Linked DNA regions of Homo sapiens: region 1 is linked to region 2. Evidence: fine-mapped expression QTL. Tissue or cell type: whole blood. Region 2 holds a variant in brackets; the other region holds the start of a gene. All regions are shown on one strand. Distances are between the middles of the regions.

The links. PIP is the estimated chance that this variant, and not a neighbour inherited with it, causes the effect.
Region 1: it holds the start of TNFRSF9, and the variant in region 2 is fine-mapped to the expression of TNFRSF9 in whole blood (TOPMed, PIP above 0.99).

What each region holds. Positions count from the first base shown.
Region 1 is chr1:7,937,989-7,943,115 of GRCh38, reverse strand. It overlaps TNFRSF9 (TNF receptor superfamily member 9), which reads left to right and starts at 2,277. Exons shown (of 8, transcript NM_001561.6): 1 at 2,277-2,332; 2 at 3,038-3,221; 3 at 4,288-4,395; 4 at 4,786-4,923. The coding sequence starts at 3,122. RefSeq lists a silencer at 434-573.
Region 2 is chr1:8,052,361-8,057,563 of GRCh38, reverse strand. The region is part of intron 2 of ERRFI1-DT (ERRFI1 divergent transcript); the gene reads right to left. It also overlaps the pseudogene RPL7AP18. Among named protein-coding and RNA genes, the nearest start is that of ERRFI1-DT, 28 kb to the right of the region's middle. The variant C/T (reference allele first, on the strand shown) is at 2,182.

The DNA.
Region 1 (5,127 bases), 110 kb after region 2:
TCAGTATTTGGGAACACATTTTGCAGGCAGCTCATGCGTTTTTCTCCTTTTCTGTCATGACTTGCCCTGTGGTGGCTCTACTGATGGTCAGTGTGGGAGGCAGGGAAGGAACATTTCAAACCAGTAAGTCTGATCATAGCAATTCCTACTTTCTTGAGAACTATGTGCCAAGCATTGAGCTAAGTATTTCATGCTCATCGTCTCATTTAATCCTCACTCACGAGGAAGATGTATGGTGTCACTGCACCTGTAAGATGTGCTTGCAAAAACAGAGTTAGGGAGGTTGAGAAATTTGCTCAAGATTACACAACTGAGGCAGGAGAATGGGGAACATGAGGCGTGAGAGAGCAAAGGGAATAAAAATCACTGGGAACCGGTAACCCCCCTCACCCCCGAGAGTGGCCAGGGAGAGAGAGGCTGCCTGAGGGAAGGAAGCTCGGCAGGACCCGCTGCAGACCCAGGGCCAAGGGAAGTCCCGCGGGAGGAAACGCGGGCGCGGTGGGGCTGGCTCCAGGCACGCGGGCCAAGGGCGGGAGGGTCGGACACGAAGCCACAAGGCTCCTTTCCTTCCTCCTCCTTCCCGTCTGCCTTCTTCTGCTTCTGCGGCCTGATCTCCGAGTCCCTCTGCCTGCAGGCGGCGGCAGAACGTCCGCATCTGTCCGCATCTCAGCGCTGTCCCCCAACCGAGTCGCGCCGCGTTTTCCTCTTCTGTCGGGAGAGCTCGTGCTGGGAACCGCGGGGCAGGAGGACGGCCCAAGCTACTCTCGATGTCCTTCCCCAGCCCACGCCTGCCCCAGCCACAGTTCCCCTGGTTTTCCTGAGGTTCTCCAGCTGCTCAATGATGGGCAGGTTCATCTACAGCCTGGAGCAGCCGCCTCCTCCTCCTCCTCCTCCTCCTCCTCCTCCTCCAGAAACACCCCTTTTTCCTTCTCCTCATTCTTCCTTCTCATTCTTTCTCCTCCTCACTCTTCCTTCTCCTCATTCTTCCGTCTCATTCTTTCTCCTCCTCATTCTTCCTTCTCCTCTTCCTCTTCCCCTTCTCTTTCTGTTCTTTTCTTCTTCCTCCTCCTCCTCCTTTTCTCTTTATTTTTCTCCTCCTCCTCCTCTTCTCCCTCTTCTTTCTCCTTATACTCCTCCTCTCCTCTTACTGTACTTTTTTTTCCTTCTGCTTTCTCTGCCCTCCTCTTCCTCTTCTTCTTCTTCTTCTTCTTTTTTTTTTTTTTTTTGTGGCTGGAGTGCAGTGGCGCAATCTCGGCTCACTGCAACCTCTACTTCCCAGGTTCAAGCGATTCTCCTGCCTCAGCCTCAGTAGCTGGGATTAAAGGGGTCCACCGCCACCATTCCCTGCTAATTTTTGTAATTTTAGTAGAGACAGGTTTTTGCCATGTTGGACAGTCTAGTGTCAAACTCCTGACCTCAGATGATCCATCCACCTCGGCCTCCCAAGTGTTGGGATTACAGGCATGAGTCACCGCGCCTGGTCTCTTTCTCCTTTTTTTTTTTTTAAAGAAAAATTGAAATCATGGTTTTCTAAAAATCCCTCCTAGCTCTCAGCTTCACCGAACCACGTCCTGGTCATTGACTTGCCGTGTGACTGCTGTGCTTCCCCTGTTTCCATTTCCCTCCATTTCTCCCTCCTTCCTCCCTCTGTCACCCATGCCCGGAGGAGCACGATAAGGGACCAGGCCGACCTGGGTTCCAACCCTGCCTGCTCCCTGTCCTGTTGACGCTCTAATTCCACTTGCAGCCCCACTTTCCTCATTTGCATAGTGTTCTCCCAGTAACAACAGCAGTCATACCAAGTTCTAGGGTTCTTTCGAGGATAGTGTGTATTCACCGCAGTGCATCTCTGATGCCTGGCACATCGGCTGTGCTCAAGTAATGGCAGCTATTGCATTACAGTGACTATGGAGTTAGGGGACCGCATATGGCAAAATGCTGATCACTGTTTTGAATTTGGTTTCATTCCTCTAATCTCAAATCCAGTGTTTTAAGGACATGCTAAATGCTTTGTCCTGGAGAGCTATCTTAAGGGACAAAATCGTTTTCCCAGCGTCATCTGTGACACATCCTGACAGTAGAGAGCTGCTTCCAAGAAGCAATTTGAAGTGCCATTATCAGGCAGGGACGGGGGCTCTAGGGGATTTCGGGGTCAGCAGATATGAAATGAATGATTTCATAGGGCTGTCACAGAGCTGTGGTGGGAATTTCCCATGAGACCCCGCCCCTGGCTGAGTCACCGCACTCCTGTGTTTGACCTGAAGTCCTCTCGAGCTGCAGAAGCCTGAAGACCAAGGAGTGGAAAGTTCTCCGGCAGCCCTGAGATCTCAAGGTCTGTCCATCTGGGGGAGTGGGTGGGGGCACTGAGAAGGGGTGAGATTGGAACTTTTGCTCCCTTTGCCCATTTCTAGACTTTTTCTCCTAATATGTAATAACTTCTCTTCAATAGCCCTTTAAATAAACATCAATAACTTAGCCTGAAGAGTTTTTCACTCCTTAGTTTTGTTACCATACAAACTTCACATCTCAAAACATGTCTCTGTTTAAGAAAATGTGTTAGTGAGTTGAACAGGGAGGTCTTTCCACATGTTAGTAGTTAGGTGTTCAGCTAAAGGGGGAAGAGTGATTATGTGATAGCTTCTTCTTGAACTGAATTGTCTGATGCCCCTGACAGATTCTCTTTGTAAGGAGTTTATTTCAGGGGCAATAAGTAATTGGCATTATTGCTGGTTGGTACTGCAAAGTACCTATGAAAGTCCCCAAAAGTTCTTGCTATTGTTATTTCTGCATTTTGGCAGAACATGATGGAAAATGCACCCTCAAACTTTGGCAAACCGGCACAAAGCTGTGTGTTTAATCACGCCTGCCTTGTCCTAGTGGTTTCTATGAATCTGCTACTTTTCCGTAATATTGCATCATTAATTGTTCCTGAAAAACCCTGAGTTATCCTCTTATAGAATTGTATAAGTAATGATTGCAATATAGATAATTTTGAAAGGAGAAACCACCTTTCCTTGGAAATGTTTATCTTTTGCAGAGTGACATTTGTGAGACCAGCTAATTTGATTAAAATTCTCTTGGAATCAGCTTTGCTAGTATCATACCTGTGCCAGATTTCATCATGGGAAACAGCTGTTACAACATAGTAGCCACTCTGTTGCTGGTCCTCAACTTTGAGAGGACAAGATCATTGCAGGATCCTTGTAGTAACTGCCCAGCTGGTGAGTACCCAGTTATCATGTGCATTTGATCTGCTCTGTTGGAAGTATGGTTCAGTTAGTCTAGTAGTCAGGGCTAACGAGCTCCCTTTTAAGGAAAGGAAAATGAAAATTCATTCATTTACAAATGTTTATTGGATGCTACAACCTAGCTGTGTGAACACAGCAAAGTCATTCAACCTCTTGTGCCTTGACTTTCTCATCTGGGGATAATAAGAGAACCTGTTTTATAGGATGGCTGGGAGGATCAAATGAAGGGCTTAGAACAGTGCATGGCACAAGGCAAGACTTCAATAAATGTTAGTTTTGTGTGTAGGGCTTTGTGCTCCGACTGGGGGCATAGCAGCGAGTAAGCGCGTAGTAAAGGGCTTAACAGAGTGGGGACGGTCAGTCGCATTTAAATTTTAGTGTAGGACATTGATGTCCTCCTGGATCCAGTCATATTCATCTCCTACATCAATCAAGATAATCATTTTGTTTTATTCAATAGATAAAGTATTTTCTTTCTGTTGATTTATTTGTTACAATATCTGGTTTTTTTGTTTTTTTTGTGTGTGTATGTTTTTTTTTTTTTTTTTGAGACACAGTCTCACTCTGTCGCCCAGGCTGGAGTGCAGTGGCACGATCTCAGCTCACTGCAACCTTGGCCTCCCAGGTTCAAGCAATTCTCCTGCCTCAGCCTCCCGAGTAGCTGGGATTACAGGTGTGCACCACTGCGCCTGGCTAATTTTTGTATTTTTAGTAGAGACAGGATTTCACCATGTTGGCCAAGCTGGTCTTGAACTGCTGACCTCAGGTGATCTGCCCGCTTCGGCCTCCCAAAGTGCTGTGATTACAGGCGTGAGCCACTGCACCTGGCCTGTATTTTGTTATTTCTAATTCTGTGATTACACAAAGAATAATCTTGCAAATGTATTGTTTTAGGAAGTCAATCAAACTAATGTCCACCACTGTGGCATCTAGAAAACTCATCATTCTTTTATAATCTTATTTTATTGTAAACTTCGGAATGCCTTGGGTGACGATTGCCCATTGTCAAACGTGTACCACTATTGTCTGCCTTTCTTAGGTACATTCTGTGATAATAACAGGAATCAGATTTGCAGTCCCTGTCCTCCAAATAGTTTCTCCAGCGCAGGTGGACAAAGGACCTGTGACATATGCAGGCAGTGTAAAGGTATGAGTTCAAAGATATTTTCTTCTTCTAGAAGATAGTTGGGAAGATAAGCTTTTCTTTCCCATTTACTAACTGCTCTCTTTTGAAAATCTCAAGTGTCAAAGACTGATTCTTCTGCCAACCAGCAGGTCTAGGACAATAATATCCAGTGACAGCAATTATTTGTGGACTGAGCTTTCTAAATATTAGAGGAAACATTCATTTGACAAGAGAGAAGTTTTTACTTACCTAAATGTAAAAATGTCTTTATGGAGATTTAAAAGTAAACTTTAAAATTACTGGGAACACTATAAGTAGAGTGAGCATGATTTTTACTGCAGAGCATAAATTCGCTTCCTGGATTTGGAGGTCAAGTGTAATAAAATGTTGGGGGCTGGGGGGACTTTGTAGGTGTTTTCAGGACCAGGAAGGAGTGTTCCTCCACCAGCAATGCAGAGTGTGACTGCACTCCAGGGTTTCACTGCCTGGGGGCAGGATGCAGCATGTGTGAACAGGATTGTAAACAAGGTCAAGAACTGACAAAAAAAGGTACGTTTGCGTTTCTTTGATCTAGTGTAGTTTTGTGACATAGACAAACTTAGCTTTGATCTTGATCCTTTGAAAATAAACAAACAGATTTGTAGAACCTTAAAGTAACAAGGGAGTATATGATATATCATATTTTAATTAATAAAATATTTCAATTAATAAAATATTTCCGTTATTTCTTCATAAATGGAAATAATTTGAAAT
Region 2 (5,203 bases):
CGACATGGATCCCATCGAGCTGTTGTCTTCCTGCCTGCCCTGTGTCGTAAAATGGGGGTCCCTTACTGCACTATCAAGGGGAAGGCAAGACTGGGACGTCTAGTCTACAGGAAGACCTGCACCACTGTTGCCTTCGCATGGGTTAACTCGGAAGACAAAGGAGCTTTGGCTAAGCTGGTGGAAGCTATCAGGACCAATTACAAAGACAGACACGACGAGATCTGCTGTCACTGGGGAGGCAATGTCCTGGCTTCCAAGTCTATGGCCCGCATTACCAATCTCAAAAAGGCAAAGGCTAAAGAACTTGCCACCAAGCTGGATTAAATGTACACTGTTGAGTTTTCAGTATATAAAAATAATTAAAATAATACAGATTTTCCTTCCAAAAAAAAAAAGATGTAAACAAATATACTGCTGTAAAAAGCACAATGAGAAGGCACCCATGAGAACAGCCACGGAAAGAACACTGGCACTCTAGAGAACAGAAAGAGAAAAGGCACAAGACAGCAAGGACAGGTGTGTTCCAGGAATGTGACAAGGCCAGGTGGCTGGCAAATCACAATCAAGGGGACAGTGGCTCGACAGGGTCCACCTTTCTGAATGCATCTCCTAGCACTGGCCCTCACTCTAAGGCCAGCCTTGCTCCACTTGAACAAGTGAAGCACTCTCTTGCCTCAGGCCCTTTGCATGGCCTCAAACACTCTTCCCCTGTGTCTTCTCATTGTTCACCCTCATTCAGATCTCTGCTCAATAGCCCCATATCAGTGACCATCCCTCTAAAATAGCCCCTTTACAGGCCAGGCACAGCGCCTCATGCCTGTAATCCCAGCACTGTTGGGAGGCCAAGGCAGAAGGATCACCTGAGGTCCAGGAGTTCAAGACCAGCCTAGCCAACATGGTGAAACTCCATCTCTACTAAAAATACAAAAATTAGCCAGGCATGGTGGTGCGTGCCTGTAATCCCAGCTACCTGGGAGGCTGAGGCAGGAGAATAACTGGAACCCGGGATGCAAATGCTGCAGTGAGCCGAGATCGTGCCACTGCACTCCAGTCTGGGTGAGAGAGTGAGACTCCATCTCAAAAAAATAAAATAAAATAGGCCATTTAGCCCCACTCTGTCTTCTAACTTTACTGCACCTTTTTCCCTTAATCATTTGTCTACTTACTGTCTTGTATATAAACAGATACATTATCCGTCTCTAGAATGTAAGTGCCCTAAGAGCAGGAACTTCATTTGCTCATTGATGGAGCTGAGTACCCAGAAAAGCACCTGGAATGGAATAGGCTTTTAATACGTATTTGTGGAATGCATAAATGCATTACAAGTGTAAGAGCAAGCCAGAAAGAACAGAAGATACATAGAACAGTAAAATTGCCACATCTTCTCTGGGTTCATGAGTCATCACAAATGGGTTATGTCAGATTACTTGAGGATATGAAAGAAAATAGATAACTTCAAAAGCAATGCCTTTCAATATAGAAAAAAAAACACCAGGCCAGGTGTGGTGGTGCACGCCTATAATCCCAGCACTTTGGGAGGTTGAGGGGGGTAGATCACTTGAGCCCAGGAGTTCGAGACCAGCCTGGAAAACACAGTGAGACCTTGTCTCTAAAAAAATTTTTTTTTAATTAGCTGGGCATGGTGGTGCATGCCTGTAGTCCCAGCTACTAGGGAGGCTGAGGTGGGAGGATTGCCTGAGCTCAGGAGGTCAAGGCTGCAGTGACCCATGATGACACCACTGCACTCCAGCCTGGGTGACAGGGAGACCCTGTCTCAAAAAAAAAAAAAAAAAAAAAACAGGAAGAAAAGAAAAAGAGGTCGGGCACGGTGGCTCACACCTGTAATCCCAGCACTTTGGGAGGCCGAGGCAGGATCACTTGAGGTCCGGAGTTCGAGACCAGCCTGGCAACATGGTGAAACCCCATCTCTACTAAAAATATAAAAATTAGCCAGGTGTGGTAGCGGGAGCCTATAGTCCCAGCTACTCCGGAGGGTGAAGCATGAGAATCTCTTCAGTCTGGGAGGCACAGGTTGCAGTGAGCCAAGATCATGCCACTGCACTCCAGCCTGGGCAACAGAGCGAGACTCCATCTCAAAAAAAAAAAAAAAAAAAGAAAAGAAAAGAAAAAAGAAAAGAAAAAACACTCTGCTAAACCTGTAAATAATTTTTAATTGTACCC[C/T]AACAAAAGCTGAAAATGGCAAAATAGATGCCAAGAGCAAAGGATTAACTGTGCTTATCATACAGCAAATCCCTCTCCTGTAAATTAAACAAATAGATTATAACAAGGCAAGAGATATTCAAGACTTAGAGAATGAATCCAAGAAACCCATTTGTGCTAAACAAAGGTACCAGGGTAATCAGGAAAGATCAGCAATGTGGAAACTAGGCTGGAATGCAATGGGGTGATCTTGGCTGATTGCAACCTCCACCTCCTGGGTTCAAGCGATTCTCCTGCCTCAGCCTCCTGAGTAGCTGGGACTACAGGCACCCACCACTACACCCAGCTGATTTTTGTATTTTTAGTAGAGAAGGGATTTCGCCATGTTGGCCAGGCTGGTCTGGAATTCCTGATCTCAAGTGATCCACCGGCCTCGGCCTCCCAAAGTGCTGGGATTACAGGCATAAGCCACTGCATCCGACCGGAAAAAGTAACTTTTCTAAAATTAAAATTAAAATTTTCTCAATGAAATCCTAGTATCATTATTAGGCTGCATAGGAATTTTCTCAGGAACACTCTTAAAAACAAGAACAAAAGAAAACAACAGAAACCAAGGCTCTAAACATTCATACATCCATTTCTTAAGTTTTCAAACAAAAACTTAGAAAGAAAACCCAGAAAACATATCCAAATAAAAGTGATTTGACCTCAGAGCTAAGAGAAAGGTTACTAGTCCCACAGGTACAGTGTACCAAGCTCACATTTCTGAAAGGTGAATGGAGACGATTTTCAGAACTAGAAAGGTGAAATAATCCGTAAAGATTAGTGACTACAAGCCAGGCACGATGGCTCACACCTGTAGTTCCAGCATTTTGGGAGGCTGAGGCAGGTGAATTGCTAGAGCTCAGGAGTTTGAGACCAGCCTGGGCAACATGGCAAAATGCAAAATGTCATCTCTACCAAAAATACAAAAATTAGGTGGGTATGGTGGCACGCCAGTGGTCACAGCTACTTTGGAGGCTAAGGTGGGAGGATCACTTGAGCACAAGAAGCTGAGATCACGTCACTGCACTCCAGCCTGAGCAACAGAGTGAGACTCTGCCAAGAAAAAAAAAAAAGAAAGACTAGTGAGTACAAATTTCATGTTGTAGAAATGTAAAAATAGAGAGAAAGAACAGAAAAAAATCAATAAACACTAGTGACAGCTTTGATCACAATCAGAATAAAATAGGCAGCTTAAAGTATGTGAAAGCAGACAGATAAGTAGATTAACTCAATAAAAAGCAAAACCAGTAATAGCAAGTTATCAATCAGTAAACAGAGTGTAAAAACTATAAAACGTGTAGAATTTCAAAAAGAAGGTTAGACTACTAAACCACAATTTGGAGGAGAAAGAGGATTAGAATGAACCAAATTTATCTTTCCTGGAAGGAAGATCGAGGTTTAGGTAAGTGAAATAAATTAAAAGTAGAAATATTGAAAAGCAGACATAAAAGTCAAAATAACCACCCAATTTACATTCTTAAAGCAGCCCTAAGACATTCACTCAAAGAAACATTGTGAATTAAAAGAAGCAAAGACTGGCAATAAAGTGATAAGGAAATTGACGATGCTCCAATTATCTTCATTCTTGCATTGACTAAACACATATTTATTGGGCACCTCTGTACCCCAGGCACCGTTCTAGGCCCTGGGGATGTAATGATCAGATGCAAGACAAAGTTCCTGCTCTCATGGTCCTTTCTGGGGAAAGCAACACCACACAAACAGACATAAGATCAGGATGAAGTGTAAGCAGATGAGAGTTTCCATTTTAGACAGGGTGGTCAGAAGAGGCTTCTTTGAAGAAGGAAGTTTTGAGCAGATTACTGAAGGGCCAAAGTAAGCCATGAGAAGCTGGAGGCAAAGAGACCAGCAAATAAGGTCCCAAGGCAGAAAATACCTTTTTTTTTTTTTTTTTTTTTTTTTTGAGACGGAGTCCCACTCTGTTCTGTTACCCAGGCTGGAGTGCAGTGGTGCAATCTCAGCTCGCTGCAACCTCTGCCTTCTGGGTTCAAGCAATTCTCCTGCCTCAGCCTCCCGAGTAGCTGGGACTACAGGTGCATGACACCACGCCTGGCTAATTTTTTGTGGTTTTGGTAGAGACGGGATTTCACCATGTTGGCCAGGCTGGTCTCGAACTCCTGACCTCAGGTGATCTACCCATCTCGGCCTCCCAAAGTGCTAGAATTACAGTGCCCAGCCAGAAAATATCTTTTATAAAAACCACAAGAAGATACCTCAATGAAACTTAAAAAAATTCATTATGTATGCAGATATGGGGGATCTTTTGGGGTGATATGTTCTCCAACTGGATTGTGATGATATTTGCACAACTTTACAAGTTTATTTAAAAATCTTTGAATTGTGGATTTAAAACAAGTGGATCTTATGGTATGTAAATTATGCCTCCATGAAACTACTTAAAGCACTTTTTTGGGCTGGGTGCCGTGGCTCATGCCTGTAATCCCAGCACTTTGGGAGGCTGAGGCAGGAGGATTGCTTGAGCTCAGGAGTTCAAGATCAGCCTGGGCAACATAGTGAGACCTCGTCTGTACAAAAAAATAAAAAATTGGCCGGGTGCGGTGGCTCACGCCTGAAATCCCAGCACTTTGGGAGGCTGAGGTGGGTGGATCACCTGAGGTCAGGAGTTTGAGACCAGCCTGACCAATATGGTGAAACCACATCTCTATTAAAAATACAAAAATTAGCCGGGCCTGGTGGCCAGTGCCTGTAGTCCCAGCTACACCAGAGGCTGAGACAGGAGAATTGCTTGAACCTGGAAGGCAGAGGTTGCAATGAGCCAAGATCGTGCCACTGCACTCCAGCCTGGGCGACAGAGCGAGACTCCATCTCAAAAAAAAAAAAAAATTCAAAAATTAGCCAAGCGTGGTGGCATGCGCCTATGGTCCCAGCTACTTCAGAGACTGAGGCTGAAGAATTGATTGAGCCTGGGAGGTTGAGGCTGCAGCGAGCCGTGATCGTACGGCTGCACTCCAGCTTG